2 linked regions of the Homo sapiens genome follow. The protein of the gene in region 1 purifies or fractionates together with the protein of each later gene. This does not show direct contact. Each region holds a gene or a part of one and is shown in the gene's direction. Other genes may lie near its edges.

Region 1 (4,426 bases):
GTCCATCATCAGATGAATGGATAAAGAAAATGTGGTATATATACACAATGGAGTACTATTCAGCCATAAAAAATGAATGGGATCCTGTCTGTCTTTGCAACAACATAGTTGGAACTGGAGGTTATTACGTGAAGTGAAATAAGCCAGGCACAGAAAGACAAACTTCACACATCCTCACTTATTTGTGGGAGCCTAAATGGAAACAATTGAACTCATGGAGACAGAGAGTAGAGGGATGGTTACCAGAGGCCAGGAAGGGTAGTGGGGGGACTTGCAGGGGAGGAGTGGGGATGGTTAATGGGTACAAAAAATAGTTAGAATAAGACCTAGTATTTCATAGCACAACAGGGTGACTATAGCCAATAATAATTTAAGTGTACATTTAAAATAACTAAAAGTATAATTGGATTGTTTGTAACACAAAGGATAAATGCTTGAGGCAATGGATACCCCATTTACCCTGATATGACTATTATGCATTGTATGCCTGTAGCAAAATATCTCATGTACCCCATAAATGTATACACCTACTATGTACCCACAAAAATTAAAAATTTTAAAATAAGTAAATAAAAAGTTTTTTAAAGGTCTTGAACTTTCGGGCTTCTGCCTAACTTTACTACTAGTGTAAGTGGGCCCCTTGAGATTTCAGCACCCCAGCATTTGTTAGTGACTGAAATAATGAAAATTCTGATCAGGCCCTTGCTTGCACATGTTGACAACTCTCTTTTTGCCCAATATCCCTTGTTCCTACAACATAATCATAAACTGCTGATGTACTGTTTCTTTATCAAGCAGGAGGAGATAATAACTTCAGGGTTACGAAAAAGTTTGCAGGAGGAATAAGTCCTTTGAAGTACTTTGAGGCCAGCTTCTGTCGCCCAGAAGTCTGATTGTTCAAGGAATTATCTGAGACTGAAGAAACACAGACTTTTTCCCTCGATTCCCTGAAACTCCCCCTCCCTGACTCGCTGGCCGCATAAACACTCTCTGCTTCTTCTTTTTGTTAGGGCGGATTTGAGAGATCTTGCCCTCCCGCCTTCTCGCTTTGGCCAAATCGAATAAACTTTTATCTCCAAGCACCTATATGTCAGTGTTTGGCATCAGCTACACATGGGGTACACGAGCCTGAGTCTGGGCTTCTACAACGCTGGGACCCTCGCTGTTCTTTGGAGCTGATGGTAAATTCAACAGAAAAGAGGCGCATGGGTAGAAAATGCAGCATTTCCTCTCAGATGCCAGATATTCATCTCCAAAGGTATTAAAAGGAGGGGGTGTGTGCCTGTGTAAAGAGGCTGGTCTTTTCCTAGCAGTACGATTTGGGCAAGTTGCTTGATTTCTTCAAGCCTTTCTTTTTCCGCCTGTCAAACAAAACAAAACAAATATCCCGTTTAGGACAAATTCACAATCCTTAAAGAGGGCAGGCAGAGCGATTGGAATGCAGATGAACCAATCCCTTCTCCTGCAGGTTGCGGAGCTGCAGAGGGACCCCGCCCCCTGCATTGTGCTTAGCTCTGATTGGCGCCTCGCGGAGGGGGCGGGGCCTGGGCGCGCCGAGCTCCGGCTGGGTCCCTGCAGGTCTTGGGGCCCGGGACTCTTCCTGGAGACACCGCCATGGCCGGGCTATCCCGCGGGTCCGCGCGCGCACTGCTCGCCGCCCTGCTGGCGTCGACGCTGTTGGCGCTGCTCGTGTCGCCCGCGCGGGGTCGCGGCGGCCGGGACCACGGGGACTGGGACGAGGCCTCCCGGCTGCCGCCGCTACCACCCCGCGAGGACGCGGCGCGCGTGGCCCGCTTCGTGACGCACGTCTCCGACTGGGGCGCTCTGGCCACCATCTCCACGCTGGAGGCGGTGCGCGGCCGGCCCTTCGCCGACGTCCTCTCGCTCAGCGACGGGCCCCCGGGCGCGGGCAGCGGCGTGCCCTATTTCTACCTGAGCCCGCTGCAGCTCTCCGTGAGCAACCTGCAGGTGAGCTGGGGCCCGCGGCTTCCCCAGGCGGGCTGTGGGCGGGGCGGCCACAGAGCGAGCCTTCACTCTCCCCAGAATTCTTCCCGGGAAGTGGAGCGTGGCTCGAACGGCTGTTGCTTCTCTGCCGCGCAGGCAGGTAGGTGGGCGTTGCAGCGTCCCAGATGTTGGGCAGCTGGGTACCAGGAATTTCCCACAAGCCTCCGCCACTGGGCCACGCACCTGGGGTAAATTCTCTGCCAGCAGCCCGAGGACTTCTCATCCGTGAGTGGTTCTCAGTCGTCTTGGGGCCCAGTGTCTCTATTAACTGTGCTCCTATTCTCTTTTTTTTTTTTTTTCCCTTTGAGACAGAATCTCACTTTGTGGCCCAGGCTGGAGTGCAGTGGCGCTATCTCAGCTTACTGCAACCTCTGCCTCCCAGGTTCAAGCGATTCTCGTGCCTCAGCCTACCGAGTAGCTGGGATTACAGGTGCGTGCCACCACACCCGGCTAATTTTTGTATTTTTAGTAGAGGCGGGGTTTCACCATGTTGGCCAGGCTGGTCTCAAACTCCTGACCTCACGTGATCCACCCATCTCAGCCTCCCAAAGTGCTGGGATTACAGGCGTGAACCACCGCGCCCTGCCTGGGCTCCTATTCTTAAAGGTTTTACAGGGCATAGAGATTGTTAGGTACTTAAGCACTTTAATATGTGACTTCAGGGTTTCTCACTCTCTTACCCTTCCTGAATTAAGCTTTTCCCTCCTGCAGCAAGACGCTAACGTACAATATCATGGACGATTACAATGATTACTGCAGTCTTTAGGCCTCCACAGGCATAGTGGCTCCTCAGTAAGATGCAGAGCTGATTGAAGGTGTATCTCTTCCTCGCCCTTTGCCCACCTTCTGGTGCAGGGCCACACTTACAACTCTGATGGATCTCTGCTGTCTCAGGGATGGGGTCACAGACACCCAGCTTGGGAGGCCGGAGACACACAGAGTCCAGGAATGGAGCCTGATTTGATGGAGGGTCTTTTTGACAAAGCTCTCACATTTGAGTTCAACTCTGAAAGTACAACATTGTTGATAAAGACAGGATGCAAGAAACTGATGCTTGATTAATCACTTTTCCATTTGCCTTCCATTCGTTGTCTCTTCTATTAATTCTTTGAAGTAGGTATTATATACCCCATTCTGCAGATGAAGAACTTGAGGCCTACCTAGGTTAAGTAACTTGTTTAAAGCCAGCGGGCAAACCCCTAGTTTCATCTCAGGTTCATCTTTCTTCAAACCACCTATCACAGGCTGGTGGCCCATCAGCTGAATATGTCCCACAGACCGGTTTGGCCTACACAAAGTTCTGTTTTGTTTTTAATAAATTTGAATTTGTTACCAACATTTTAAAATTTAGATTTTACTTTAAAATGTAAATCTCTAACTTTTCTTGAAAAATGGGAAGATCCAGTGACACTGTGGGCCTGCACTCTTTGAGCAAAAACAGAAGCAGTGCCCTCTTTTAGCTAAGGCAGATACACCCCAGTTCACCATTTTCTTATTCCCAGCCCATTCCACACCTTTAGGCGTTTGCTCAAAACAAACTCACTCCACTCCATCAGTGGTGCTCAACTTTGACTGCAAATCATAGTCACCTAAGAAGGCTTTAAAAATGGGATGCCAAGGTATTTTATTGAAAGCACATTTTATTTTAAGACAACACCCCTTCCCGCCTCCCCACAAACCACTCCCTGATGATTCTAATGGGGGAGGAGGGAGATTGACCAATACATAATCATATTTAAATTTGTGAGGTGACTAGGGAGTTGCTGGTATTATTGTCCCCATTTAGGAAGTGAGGAAACACAGACTCAGAGGTGCAGGGACTTACCCTGTGACCAGTCAGCTAATGGCTGTCAGGTAGGACATTAGCCCAGGTCTTTCATGTTTCTAGAAATAGACAGGGCAGTGGCAAGGAACCTACCCAGGGCTTTAGGTTTCCATGATGGCAGTGAAAAGAAGTGGCCACATTAGAATTTGTCTGACTTGATTCCATCAATTAGCAGGTCAAAGTTTCTGCTTTTTTCTTTTCCTCCTCCTGACCTCCAGGGTGCTCTGCATTTCTTCTCATTGACAGGGGGTGAAATCGTTCAGAAGGAACAAAAAGACCTAGGTTTGGGACCATTTCTCATGTGTAAAATACCTGTCCTCTGTAACTTAGAGATATGTTGTGAGCTTCAAACGTACTTACCACTGGGCTGTTTCTTTTGTATGTCTCTTTCTTTGTGGCATTTTTGTATAGTAAATGTCTGTAGGACAGTGTTGCTGATGTTAGCTTATAGTGGGACCGTGTTTGGCTGCAGAGCCAGTGAGTCTGAAGGGAAATCTTGGGGTTTGATTATTTGCACCAAGACCTCTTACTATTAGCCTCCCTTCCATTTTGGCATTCTTTTCTTGTGATGTGCCCCTTTCTGTTCTGGTCACTCTT
Region 2 (3,686 bases), on another chromosome or scaffold:
GATCAAAATTAATTTTCAATTTTTTATCTTTATTTGAAAAATGGCCACAATAGTTAATTGAATATTCTGGTTAGCCTATTATCTTAAGGTATGTAAAAATTATCAATATGCAAGTACAAAACATATTTGTTAAATATTACATAGAAGCTGTTTTTTCCCTCATATTTCAGAAGTTAAGGACCTGAAAAAGGTAATAGGTCTTAAATTTATTGGAAATACTAAAGCATTATATAAAATTATCTTATTTAATTCTAACATCAATCATTGAAGGCAGTGTTTTCATCCCCATATTACAGAAAGGTTAAGTCATTGGGTCAAGTTCATACAACTACTCATTGGCCGTGCTGAGATATGAAGCCCAGAATGTCAGATTCCAAAGCTCAGGCTCTTTGCTTCATACATACTTGTCTTCCAGTATCACTAAATTCCGTCAGTTATTAAATCAATAGAATTTAGGAAGGTCAGTGAATACAATGTGAGTGTTACAGAACTCAGTTGTGTTTCTGTATGTTGTAATGAATAGAAAATAATAGAAAATGAAATTTGAGTATTTATGCCATTTTTCAGTAGCATCAAAGAGCATCAAGTAGTAGTAATAAAATAGTGCAGAAACTATGTAGAAAATGCTGATTTGTACTGTAAGAGGTTTAAGTATCGGGTTATTTGTTTGCTCTTCCAAAGAGCTCTTTTTGGTAAATATTAAGCAATTTACTATTTTATATCAATTTGCTTTTATCGTAGTTGATGCTGATGTAACAGTTATAGGTTCTGGTCCTGGAGGATATGTTGCTGCTATTAAAGCTGCCCAGTTAGGCTTCAAGGTAAGGTTTGAACTCAAACTAAGTATTGATTTATTTTAATTTGGGAAGGGTTGATCATATTTATAAAGTACTTTGCAGGCAAAAACATGGTAAATACTTCCTTAACTCTATAAATTACTTGTAAGCCTGAGACTAATAAAGATTAGGTTCATTTGGTTGTAGTATTCTCTTGGAATGGAAAGTGAAATCTATTAGTTTTCTTCTCTTCCCAGTACTTTTCATTTTGGCATCTAATCACACTTTGGAAGATACAGTGATAGAACTAAAAGCATATATTTGGTAATGTTAAGCACACAAAAATATCTTTTAGAATAATTCACTTTTGGGTCAGCCCAAAAGTGTTTATTATTATTCAAATGATAAATTATAAAGGACTATATATTTTAGTCTGTGAAAACATAGCCCGAATAGCTTGTTTTGTAGAAGAATTAAGACATATATTTGGAATTTTAGTGATCTGAAACATTGAGGTTATGTGCAGTTAAATAATGTTTTCTTTGGTTGTAGACAGTCTGCATTGAGAAAAATGAAACACTTGGTGGAACATGCTTGAATGTTGGTTGTATTCCTTCTAAGGTGAGCATGTGTTTTGTACAGCACAGAGATTGTTTTTGGCTAGCAACCAACTAGAAGGATGGATTGAGACTAGATTAGACAAATACACTTGTTAAAAAACAATCCAAGTTGTGGCACATTTCACACAGAGAAAAAAAAGAATGATAAAAAACACACTTCTCTTTTGTAAAACTTAAAGAGTGCTGTCACTAGTCTGCCACACATTCCTGAAATAACTTCCTTGTCTCAGAATGCCTAGCTTTCCATTCAAACAGACTCTGATGTTCTAGTTTTTTCTCTTTATCTTTCCTTCACCAGTGTAACAGATAATAGATAGTAAATTGTTCTTTTAGGTCCTTTTTGTATGTAAACATGACTGCCTTTTTCACCTGCCACCCTGAAGTGTGTACTTATGCCTTTACTTTTAAAGAAAGTAAAAATGTCTTTTTCATTCTTGTTTGTTGAATGTTTTTCACATCATTATTGTTTGTCTTTGATTAATAAGAGAAACTGAATTGGTGTAGTGCCATATACTATTCCATGTAGAGAATGCCATGTCTTTTTTTTAACTTCTTTTTAAATTTTTATTGTAAATTGACAAATTACAATTGTATATATTTATGGCATACAAAGTGGTGTTATGATTTATGACTATAATGTGGAATAATTTAGTCAAGTTAATTAACATATTCATTACCACAGTACTTATCATTTTTGTGATGAGAACATTTGAAAGAGAATATCGGCCGGGCGCGGTGGCTCACGTCTGTAATCCCAGCACTTTGGGAGGCCGAGGCGGGTGGATCACCTGAGGCTGGGAGTTTGGGACCAGCCTGACCAACATGGAGAAACCCCATCTCTACTAAAAATACAAAATTAGCCAGGCGTGGTGATGCATGCCTGTAATCCCAGGGACAATTGCTTGAGCCCGGGAGGCGGAGGTTGCGGTGAGCTGAGATGGCGCCATTGCACTCCAGCTTGGGCAATAAGAACGAAACTCCGTCTCAAAAAATGAAAAGAAAGACTATCATTTCATAAGTGCTTTTTGATTATTTGAAGTCTGTTTATGAATATTTGATAATTTGATCTTTTTAATTTCCTTTAGGCTTTATTGAACAACTCTCATTATTACCATATGGCCCATGGAAAAGATTTTGCATCTAGAGGAATTGAAAGTAAGTATACTTTTCATGCTTAATGATATTACCAGACTGCTTGACTTGGCTCTTCTGTCTAAAGACTTAAATGTGTCTAACGTACGCATAATAGATGTTTAGTGAAGGAAGAGTAAAATAAATAATCTAAAAAATGTGGAGAGATTTACTTAAAAAAGAAGGCCTAAATCCAGATTTCTCCCAGCCAAGTATAACCAAGCCTAACCCTGCAAATCCAGATTTCTACCATTATATCTTCTGTTCCTTTGCCAACTTTTTCCTGAGGTTTGCCTTTATGTGTTTTTGAAGAGTCAGTTTTCATTTCCTAAAATCTGGAAATCACTGAGAAGGCTGGATTCCTGAGTACTATGGGGAGATAGAGGAAGGAAGGAAGGCCCACTTAAGCTGTTGATAGTAGAAAAATTAGAGGAGAGAAAGAGTGAGGCATAGCGGAAAAGGAAGAGGACATTTCATAACGTATCTTGTCTCCTGACATACTTTTTGAGCTGTTTTAATCTTTTGTCTCCAATTATTGTTGTTGTTAGATACTTCCAGAAAGGTAGTCTCTTCTGGGCAGGACCTAGTCATAACCTTGGGTTGTTACTTTTCCTTCATTTGTTTCTTTACAGAGGTAGGTTTGAGGGGCTACTTAAGGCAATCCATTGGGTATAGAGATGATGTATATGCACTAAAGCAAATAGAATATCATACTAGTTGAAAAATGGAATGACGTAAAGAAAGAAGAGCTAGGGGTAGTCAGGAGACCTGCATTGTAGGCAAGGCTTTTACATCCTAGCTCTGTGACCTTGGGTAAATCAGAAATCTCTCAGAGTCTCTTTTTCCTTATCTCTAATATATGTGTTGGTTATATGAGGTACTTTCTAAGATACCCTTCTTACCTCTAAAGTTTAATTGAGTTGAGCATTTTTATCTAATACTGTTGCTTCAGAGTTCTCTTCTGAGTTGAATGAGTGATTAAAACCTAGGTGATTAAACTTTTTAATGTTAAGCTTCTGTATTTGAAATTTTTAAACGTGTATTTTTTATTTGTTTTGTTTCATGAAATCTAGCATTTTCCTTTATTTAAAATTTCAGATGATGTTTTACTTTGTCATTTCTACTTACATATCTTCCAGACTTATAACCATCGTAAAGT

What was found. Proteins that work in one complex are often made in the same cells at the same time.
Region 2: the proteins of CREG1 (region 1) and DLD fractionate together in Homo sapiens (co-fractionation; one large-scale study listed by BioGRID). This does not show direct contact.

Annotation. Positions count from the first base shown.
Region 1 is NC_000001.11:167,550,930-167,555,355, reverse strand, and holds the start of CREG1 (protein CREG1 precursor), read left to right. Parts: upstream 1-1,593; 5' UTR 1,594-1,614; coding exon 1,615-1,968; intron 1,969-4,426.
Region 2 is NC_000007.14:107,900,997-107,904,682, forward strand, and holds part of DLD (dihydrolipoyl dehydrogenase, mitochondrial isoform 1 precursor), read left to right. Parts: intron 1-741; coding exon 742-821; intron 822-1,328; coding exon 1,329-1,397; intron 1,398-2,481; coding exon 2,482-2,551; intron 2,552-3,686. UniProt on the Homo sapiens protein: Lipoamide dehydrogenase is a component of the glycine cleavage system as well as an E3 component of three alpha-ketoacid dehydrogenase complexes (pyruvate-, alpha-ketoglutarate-, and branched-chain amino acid-dehydrogenase complex).